2 separate regions of the Homo sapiens genome follow, and region 1 is linked to region 2. Evidence: fine-mapped expression QTL. A gene starts in region 2. The other region holds a variant in brackets. All regions are shown on one strand. Distances are from middle to middle. Region 1 overlaps PAFAH1B2 (platelet activating factor acetylhydrolase 1b catalytic subunit 2). Region 2 holds the start of PAFAH1B2 (platelet activating factor acetylhydrolase 1b catalytic subunit 2).

Evidence for each region. PIP is the estimated chance that this variant, and not a neighbour inherited with it, causes the effect.
Region 1: its variant is the best candidate, but not a certain one, in a credible set for the expression of PAFAH1B2 in whole blood (TOPMed, PIP 0.75).

What each region holds. Positions count from the first base shown.
Region 1 is chr11:117,161,444-117,166,443 of GRCh38, forward strand. It overlaps PAFAH1B2 (platelet activating factor acetylhydrolase 1b catalytic subunit 2), which reads left to right. Exons shown (of 6, transcript NM_002572.4): 5 at 2,327-2,449. Among named protein-coding and RNA genes, the nearest start is that of SIDT2, 15 kb to the right of the region's middle. The variant T/C (reference allele first, on the strand shown) is at 3,074.
Region 2 is chr11:117,140,988-117,146,445 of GRCh38, forward strand. It overlaps PAFAH1B2 (platelet activating factor acetylhydrolase 1b catalytic subunit 2), which reads left to right and starts at 3,300. Exons shown (of 6, transcript NM_002572.4): 1 at 3,300-3,431. RefSeq lists a silencer at 3,510-3,829 and an enhancer at 4,380-4,559.

The sequences.
Region 1 (5,000 bases), 20 kb after region 2:
TAGTGAATTGTTTGCCTATTGGGTTGTATTTATAGTTGTTATAATTACTTTCTTAAGTTGAAGGAAGAGTTTTTTTTTTTTTTGAGATGGAGTCTTGCTTTGTCACCCAGGCTAGAGTGCAGTGGTGTGATCTCAGCTCACTGCAACCTCCGCCTCCTGGGTTCAAGCGATTCTCCTGCCTCAGCCTCCCGAGTAGCTGGGATTACAGGCGCCGCCACTGTGCCCAGCTAATTTTTGTATTTTTGGTAGAGATGGGGTTTCACCATCTTGGCCAGGCTGGTCTTGAACTCATGACCTTGTGATCCACCCGCTTCGGCCTCCCAAAAGTGCTGGAGAATTACAAGCATGAGCCACCGCGCCTGGCTGAAGGAAGAGATTTGATGCTAACGAGGTATGCTATTCTGTGGAATGCATAGATCTCGGGCAGTATGAGGGAAAACTGCTCAGAGGTGGGCCATGGGAGCAGGGCCATGATTAACTTTAGGAAGTAATTTTGGATCTGTTTAACCATATAAACAGGTCAGTAATCGAGGCCTGCAAGTTCATCTGAAGAAAATTAGAAGCAGATGTGAACAAATGAACATTTCTACCCAGTATCTTATATCATAAATACTCTGAGTTGGCACACTGTATATAATTGTTTCAGCTCCCAAAAAAGAACAAAAACTGAGCCCTGACAAAACGTGCTTTCATTGAAAGTTGTTTGTTTTAAGACAGGTTCTCTCTGTTGCCCAAACTAGAATGCAGTGGCATGATTATAGCTCACTGTAACCTCAAACTGTTGGACTCGGATGATCCTATGGCCTCAGCCTCCCAAATAGCTAGGACTGCAGGCATGTGCCACCATGCTTAGCTAATTTTTAAATTTCTTTTTGTAGACAGGGTCTTGGTCTTGTTATGTTGCCTAGGCTGGTGTCAAACTCCTGGCCTCAGATGATGATCCTCCCGCCCCGGCCTCCTAAAATACTGGGATTATAGGCTTGAGCTACCATGCGAGACTGTGATTTTTTTTTTTTTTCTCTAAAGAGAAAAACTTGATGGATCAGCGTGGTGGGTTATGCCTGTAATCCTAGCACTTTGGGAGGCTGAGGCACGCAGATCACTTGAGGCTAGGAGTTCACGACCACCCTGGCCAGCATGGTGAAACCCTGTCTCTAGATTTAAAAAAAAAAAAAAAAAGCCAGGCATGGTGTCACACACCTTAGGAAGCTGAGGCAGGAGAATCACTTGAACCCATGAGATGGAGGTTGCAGTGAGCCAGGATCACACCACTGCACTCCAGCCTGGGTGACAGAGGAAGACTCCGTTTCAAAAATAAATAAATAGAAAAATTTGTTAAAGTTGCATCCAGCCTCCACCTCTGTGACTCTTTTCCTTGAGTGTACCTGTGTATTTATACCGTGACAGGTTCTTGCTGTGTCACCCAGGCTGGAGTGCAGTGGCATGATCATGGCTTACTTGCAGTCTTGAACTCCTGGGCTGAATCAATCTTCCCACCTCAGTGTCCCAAAGCATTGAGATTATAGATGTGACCCACTGTGCCTGGCCAGGTTTTATTTTTATACAGTTTATTAATCTTTTTTGTATAATTTTTGGATTTTGAGAAATCAGCTTCCTGCTGCATGATGATATAATTCTCTCTTGTTTCCTCCTAGTACAATTTTACCACTTAAATATTATTCCCCTTGGAATTTATCCTGATATATGATAGGAGGCATAAATCGATGCATTAAGATTTCTGCCCTGGCTCAACATTTGTAGTCCCAGCATTTTGGGAGGCCAAAGAAAGATGGATTGAGCCCAGGAGTTTAAGACCAGCCTGGGCAATATAGCATGACCCTCTATCTCTTAAAAGAAAATTTAATAGGATAGCTGCCCAGTTGAAGTTAGCCAACACCATTTGAAAAGTTTATCTTTCCTTCTTTGCTTTTTGAAATAAGATTTTCGGCCGGGCGTGGTGGCTCACACCTGTAATCCCAGCACTTTGGGATGCCAAGGTGGGTGGATTACCTGAGGTCAGGAGTTTGAGACCAGCCTGGGCAACGTGGTGAAACCCTGGTCTCTACTAAAAATACAAAAATTAGCTGGGCGTGGCGGCACATGCCTGTAGTCCCAGCTACTCGGGAGGCTGAGGCAGGAGAATCACTTGAACCTGGGAGGCGGAGGTTGCAGTGAGCCGAAATGGTGCCACTGCACTCCAGTCTGGGTGATAGAGCGAGACCCCATCTCAAAAAAAAAAAAAAAAAAGATTTTCATCTAAATGTTGGACGTTCCTTTGTTCCTGGGTATTTATCTTCTCCTTCCCCCCTTTTTTCTTCAATTGCAGGTCATTGTTGTCTGGGTAGGAACAAATAACCACGAAAATACAGCAGAAGAAGTAGCAGGTGGGATCGAGGCCATTGTACAACTTATCAACACAAGGCAGCCACAGGCCAAAATCATTGTATTGGTATGTAGTCGTTGGTGGGTAGAGAGTTTGTTATCTTTAGGTCAGCTGAGGAATCTTTTTAGAAATGTGATTGCTCATGAATATTAGAGAACCTTGAGGTGGAAGCAGTTTATCATACTTTCGTTGACCTCTTCTTTAATGTATTTTACTGTCTTACTGGTTTCATCATTCCCCATACCAGCTGTGGGGCCATCTTTTATCCACGCATCCTTGTTTAGAAGTATGGAAGCCGTGGCCAGGCGCTGTGGCTCACGCCTGTAATCCCAGCACTTTGGGAGGCCAAGGTGGGCGGATCACGAGGTCAGGAGATCAAGTCCATCCTGGCTAACACGGTGAAACCCTGTCTCTAATAAAAATACAAAAAATTAGCCGGGTGTGGTGGCAGGCGCCTGTAGTCCCAGCTACTCGGGAGGCCGAGGCAGGAGAATGGCGTGAACTTGGGAGGCAGAGCTTACAGTGAGCAGAGATTGTGCCACTGCACTCCAGCCTGGGTGACAGAGCGAGACTCCGTCTCAAAAAAAAAAAGTATGGAAGCCGTTTGGTGCCTCAGTACTCCTTTTTTTGGCCTCCATAATTTTTTGCACAATGGCACATGAGATTTGTCTGAATCCTGAGTCTTTTTAT[T/C]AGACCTATATTTGGATTACTTTGTAAGTGTCCTGTTTTACTGCTAATATGTTAAAGGTGGTATATTAGACATTCTAATCTTCTCTAAAACATAAAAAATTTCATCAGCAAGAAAATGGATACTTTATAGTTGTACCCTGAACAGAAAGGTGCTACCCTTTTGTAGAATTAAAGCATTAACTCTTCATGGTCTCAAAGGTGAACAGCTGTCTGTTTCAGTATAAAAGTCTAGCTGTAGGCCGGGTGTGGTGGCTCACGTCTGTAATCCCAGCACTTTGGGAGGCCGAGGCGGGTGGATCACAAGGTCAGGATTTCAAGACCAGCCTGGCCAAGATGGTGAAACTTCGTCTCTACTAAAAATACAAAAAAATTAGCTGGGCGTGGTGGCACGTGCCTGTAATCCCAGCTATTCGGGAGGCTGAAACAGATAATTTCTTTTTTCTTTTTTTTTTTTTTTGAGACAGAGTCTCGCTCTGTCGCCTAGGCTGGAGTGCAGTGGCATGATCTCGGCTCACTGCAAGCTCGGCCTCCCAGGTTCACACCATTCTCCTGCCTCAGCCTCCCGAGTAGCTGGGACTACAGGCGCCCGCCACCACACCCGGCTAATTTTTTGTATTTTTAGTAGAGATGGGGTTTCACCGTGTTAGCCATGGTCTCGATCTCCTGACCTCGTGATCTGCCTGCCTTGGCCTCCCAAAGTGCTGCGATTACAGACGTGAGCCATCACGCCTGGCTGAAGCAGAGAATTTCTTAAACCTGGGAGGTGGAGGTTGCAGTGAGCCGAGATCGTGCCACTGCACTCCAGCCTGGGCAACAGAGCAAAACTCGGTCTCAAAAAAAAAAAAAAAATGTCTAGCTGTAGATATTCTTAGTCAGTTTGAAACATGTTTTAGCAAAATCTGATACAAATTTAGTTCTTTAGTGAGATGGTGTTAGGAAGATAGTCATTTACTCAAAAAACCTGAGGATCACTGTGTACAAGGCACTATCCTAGTTCTTGAGCATACAAAAATGAGTAAGACATAGTTTCGGTCTCAAGGAGCTCACAGTCTAGTGTATGGAGACAGCAACACAGAATTATTATACTGTGTGCTGTTTAGAGTAAGGTGAAAACGTGTTTAACAAAAGTTGACATCTGCATTCAAAGACTTCATTGGTTTCCAGACAAATAGGGAAAGAAGGAAGGTATTATAGAAAAATAAAGAGAATTGAGCAAAGGCTTGTACATGTATGTGTTTGTTGGGTGAGCAGAGGAGGCTGCATAAAGTTTGAGCCTGGGATGGTTAGGAGAAGGAGGCCACAACCAGGTCATGTAGGATTTTTTTTTTTTTTTTTTAATTTGAGATGGAGTCTCGCTCTACTGCCCAGGCTGGAGTGCAGTGGCGTGATCTTAGCTCACTGCAACCTCCGCCTCCCGGGTTCAAGTGATTCTTCTGCCTCAAATCCCAAGTAGCTGGAACTACAGGTGCATGCCACCATGCCCGGCTAATTTTTGTTTGTTTTTAGTAGAAACGGGGTTTCACCATATTGGCCAGGCTGGTCTCGAACTCCTGACCTCGTTCGTGATCTGCCCGCCTCATCCTCCCAAAGTGCTGGGATTACAGGCGTGAGCCACTGCGCCAGACCAGGTCATGTAGGAATTCATATGCTGTTGGGATGTTTGGATTTTATCCACAGTTGCTGGGGGGCCAGATCTTTTTTATTACAAGGCATTTCATTTACTTGTTGAGGTACTTATTTATACCTGCCTTATTCCAGAAAGGATTGTGTTAAGAGTCCACCTGTTAAGTACAGTGACTAGTACATAGTATTTGCTTAGGAAATATTTGTTGTATGAATGTTGCTCAATAAGCCTTCCATATTCTTTGTTTTTAAATTGGATATACAAAAGTGTTAATTATGGTGTTGTCCATAATACTAAAACTTT
Region 2 (5,458 bases):
AAAAAGAGAATTTTAGGCCAATACGCCTGATGAACATTGATGTGAAAATTCTCAATAAAATACTGGCAAACCGAATCCAGTGGCACATCAAAAAGCTTATCCACCACAATCAAGTTGGGTTCATCCCTGGGATGCAAGGCTGGTTCAACATACACAAATTGATAAACGTAATCCATCACATAAACAAAACCAATGACAAAAACCACATGATTATATCAATGCAGAAAAGGCCTTCGACAAAATTCAGCAGCCCTTCATGCTAAAAGCTCGCAATAAACTAGGTATTGATGGAACGTATCTCAAAATAGTAAGAGCTATTTATGACAAACCCACAGCCAATATCATACTGAATGGGCAAAAACGGGAAGCATTCCCTTTGAAAACCAGCACAAGACAAGGATGCCCTCTCTCACCACTCCTATTCAACATAGTGTTGGAGGTTCTGGCCAGGGCAATCAGGCAAGAGAAAGAAATAAAGGGTATTCAATTAGGAAAAGAGGAAGTCAAATTTTCCCTGTTTGCAGATGACATGATTGTATATTTAGAAAACCCCATTGTCTCAGCCCAAGATCTCCTTAAGCTGATAAGCAACTTCAGCAAAGTCTCAGGATACAAAATCAATGTGCAAAAATCACAAGCACTCCTATACACCAATAACAGACAATAACAGAGAGCCAAATCATGAGTGAACTCCCATTCACAATTGCTACAAAGAGAATAAAATACCTAGGAATCCAACTTACAAGGGATGTGAAGGACCTCGTCAAGGAGAACTACAAACCACTGCTCAGTGAAATAAAAGAGGACACAAACAAATGGAAGAACATTCCATGCTCATGGATAGGAAGAATCAGTATTGTGAAAATGGCCATACTGCCCAAGGTAATTTATAGATTCAATGCCATCCCCATCAAGCTACCAAAGACTTTCTTCACAGAATTGGAAAAAACTACTTTAAACTTCATATGGAACCAAAAAAGAGCCCGCATTGCCAAGACAATCCTAAGCAAAAAGAACAAAGCTGGAGGCACCACGCTACCTGACTTCAAACTATACTACAAGGCTACAGTAACCAAAACGGCATGGTACTAGCACCAAAACAGATATATAGACCAACAGAACAGAACAGAGGCCTCAGAAATAACACCACACATCTACAACCATCTGCTCTTTGACAAATTGACAAAAACAAGAAATGGGGAAAGGATTCCCTATTTAATAAATGGTGCCAGGAAAACTGGCTAGCCATATGTAGAAAGCTGAAACTGGATCCCTTCCTTACACCTTATACAAAAATTAATTCAAGATGGAGTAAAGACTTAAATGTTAGACCTAAAACCATAAAAACCCTAGAAGAAAACATAGGCAATACCATTCAGGACATAGGCATGGGCAAAGACTTCCTGACTAAAACACCACAAGCAATGGCAACAAAAGCCAGAATAGACAAATGGGATATAATTAAACTAAAGAGCTTCTGCATGGCAAAAGAAACTACCATCAGAGCGAACAGGCAACCTACAGAATGGGAGAAAATTTTTGCAATCTACCCATCTGACAAAGGGCTAATATCCAGAATCTACAAAGAACTTAAACAAATTTACAAGAAAAAAAACAAACAACCCCATCAAAAAGTGGGCAAAGGATATGAACAGACACTTCTCAAAAGAAGACATTTATGCAACCAACAGACACATGAAAAAATGCTCATCATCACTGGTCATCAGAGAAATGCAAATCAAAACCACAATGAGATACCATCTCATGCCAGTTAGAATGGCGATCATTAAAAAGTCAGGAAACAACAGATGCTGGAGAGGATGTGGAGAAAGAGGAACACTTTTACACTGTTGGAGGGAGTGTAAATTAATTCAACCATTGTGAAAGACAGTGTGGCGATTCCTCAAGGATCTAGAACTAGAAATACCATTTGACCCAGCCATCCCATTACTGGGTATATACCCAAAGGATTATAAATCATGCTGCTATAAAGATACATGCACACGTATGTTTATTGTGGCACTATTCACAATAGCAAAGACTTGGAACCAACCCAAATGTCCATCAATGATAGACTGGATTAAGAAAATGTGGCACATATACACCACGAAATACTATGCAGCTGTAAAAAGGATGAGTTCATATCCTTTGCAGGGACATGGACGAAACTGGAAACCATCATTCTCAGCAAACTATCACAAGGACAGAAAACCAAACACCGCATGTTCTCATAGGTGGGAATTGAACACTGAGAACACTTGGACAAAGGGCGGGGAACATCACACACGGGGGCCTGTCGGGGACTGCGGGGCTGGGGGAGGGATAGCATTAGGAGAAATACGGAATGTAAATGACGAGTTGATGGGTGCAGCAAACCAACATGGCACACGTATACCTATGTAACAAACCTGCACGTTGTGCACATGTACCCTAGAACTTGAATAAAAAAAAAAAAAAAAAAGAAAAATTACTTGACATATCTTGACATTTTAGGCTCCCAGGATTTTACAGTATTCTTAACAGGTTTTGTCAGCAAAATCAACCCCCACCCCCGCATCAGTTTAAGAGCCCTGGAAGGCTCTGCCTATTCACCAGCATAGAGCTGAGATCCTTAAAGGGCCAGTTCAGGGCACTGCTCCAGCAACCGTTGCGCTGCTATAAGCTTGAGCACATCTCTTGCCCCTCCTCTCTACTTTTATAGATCCTGCATTTATTTAGCATATAATCTTTTCAATATTGACTTTGTATATGTATGTCTTCCCCTAAACTGGATGTATCTTTTAAGGAAAAGCCTGGGGTTCGTCATCCCCCTATGTATCACCTTTACAGGCGGTCACCCAAAATCTCCACATTCATCATAGAAACAGAAATTCCACTAATAAATGTCAGGTACTGCCTCCTTAACCTTGGTCCGCTATTTCCCTCCCACTTTCAGCAGTCTGGTTTATTCCATGGGTGGAAGAGGAAGCCAAGTTGGCTGAGTGTGAAGGGAATGGCGTCAGTGTGACTTCACGCCACATCGTCCCGAATGCCAGCTCCACACTGCGGTGGCACGAACGCAGGATTGAGAGATGCAGCTGGAGTAAAGAGAGAAGCCCATGTCCCTCAGACGCCACACAAAATGGGGGTAACCGCGAGAACAAAGCAGGGTACCCAACGGGGTGTGGCGGGACACCTGGGCGCACGCCGCCAGCGCCCGGGAGAGCGAAGGCGGGGAGAGAGGAACCACGCTGAGGCGTGGCAGGATGGGGGCGGGACTTCCGGAAGCCATTTGGCTGAGTGGCAGGGGAACCGGAAGTGGAGGAGCTGCTGCTGGTGCTGGGGCCGGAGGAGGGACGCGCCGGAGCGGGACCGACGGGACCGAGCGAGCGACCGACGCGCCACCCGCCGACGCCTCAGCCGCTTGGGGCCCGCACGGACCCTCTACTTCAGTGAGTGCATCCAGGGTCGCAGGGAACCGGTGGCTTAGAGGCGGGGGTCGGAAGGGGCTGCGAGGTGTTATTGTGAGAGGCCCGCGACCTCCCCTCCCCCACCCTTGCGGCCCCTCCCCCCACGCCGCCCCATCCACTTGGGGGGGGCCTCGCGAGCGCGCGCCTTCTCTGCGGGCCCAGCGTCGGCTTCCCAGCAGCCGGCGCAGCTAGTTTTCGCTCTGAGAGCCCTTTCCCGATATTCCATACCGAAAGCTGGCGTTTCTCCTCAGCCGCCGGCCGGCGCCTCCACGGCCTTTCCCAGGAGGGTAGCGCGGCGGGCGCCCCGCCCCGCCCTGCCCTGCCCTGCCCTGCCGGGCCCACCCGCGGTAGGCCTTGCGCACCCCAGCTCGCCCCGGCTGGGCGCTGCAGCTCCTGCCCGGGTCTCCGCTGCTGCCTTTTCCCTTTATCACAGGGGTCTAACTTCTCACTCTTCTCTCCCCTCGCGTCTGGTCGGAGGCCAAAACCAGTTACTCCGTTGTGTTTTTACCGAGCACTTTTCCCTCCTCCTTTTGTTGAAAAATTTCAACTCTTTAGAAACTTCTCCGTTGCCTCTTAGGATGTGTTTATTCAAAAGTTGCATAGACCGTCACCACTCGGAAGGGATTATTTCTTGGAAGGCTTTCCAGCCCCCATCTCATCTTAGACATGAATGTGCTCGGAGCGGCTGGTGACCTGCCCAAGGTCAGCCAGCTAGATAAACCTGTCAGCGGAGAGGTTTGGGGGGATGTTTTTTTCCTGGCTCACCGTCCGTTTGCCAGATCCGTGCCTTCTGGTCTACAGGTTTGATTGACCCGTTGCGTGGTGACTCATGCTTCTGCTTTTCATAGCTCGCAGGCCAGCGTTGCTTTTCAGAATTTATACACAAACAAGAACTAACACTCGGAGCTTTCGCCTCTTTGTAGAGCTTACCCGTAGAGAAAGGAAAGACCACCCGGATCCACCCTAGGACCTCATTTTGTACAGCTTGAAATTATGGGAAGGGGTTGGGCCGGGGGTAAAGGTGTGGAGAAAGTGGAAGGAGAAAGTGCTTAATTAAGATTGTCTTTGCCTTGGATGTGCCTTGTGTCTTTGGCTTCTTCTGGGCACATTGTTCTGACATAAAGGTTGCCTCCTTGTGGGGGAGAAGGGGAGGATTAGTTTGTTGGCTTGGGCATTTGATCATAAATTATGGAGGTGCTGGACCGGAGGAACCACCCACCAGCCCACGGAGGCTACCGGGCATTCAGGATAAGGGCCGCCTTCTTCTTCAGAATAACCATACCCACTCCCTCTGAAACAAAGTGGAGAGTCTTAGGTCTGAGTGGAAACTCTAAATCTTTTAATTCTTGGTTCAACTTTCTTCATCTGTTTTCCTGGTTCAGACTAAAACATCTAACTCAGCTGGAGAAGTTATAACGCTTTGTTGTTGGACGTGGTTTCTCATTAAATACATTGCACTATGCTGGTATAAGCACTTGGAAATTCTAGTGCTGTATTGTCATAGTAAGTAGAGAATATAGAAAAGGCAGGAAAATCGTGCAAGTCGGTTACTCCTCGTCTTCCCAGAGAACTCACTTTAATGGACAACAAAGCTTCCCCTGGAGTACAGTCTGTTGTGGCAAATTAACAAAACTTGTTCTTCAGACCTTTTATTTGCATTCTGCTTGGTCTTTCTTTCTTTTTTTTTTTTTTTTTTTGTGTGTGTGACGGAGTCTCAGTCTGTCGCCCAGGCTGGAGTGCAGTGGCGCGATCTCTACTCACTACAACCTCTGCCTCCCGGTTCAAGCTTATAGGCATGTGCCACCACACCCAGCTAATTTTGTATTTTTTTTTTTTAGTAGAGACGGGGTTTCGCCACGTTGGCCAGGCAGGTCTTGAACTCCCGACCTCAAGTGATCCACCCGCCTCGGCCTCCCAAAGTGCTGGGATAACAGGCGCAGGAAACCCAAAGTCACTCAGAAGTTTGCGTCTTACCACTGGGTAGCTCTTAGTTCGTTCTTATTTTATGT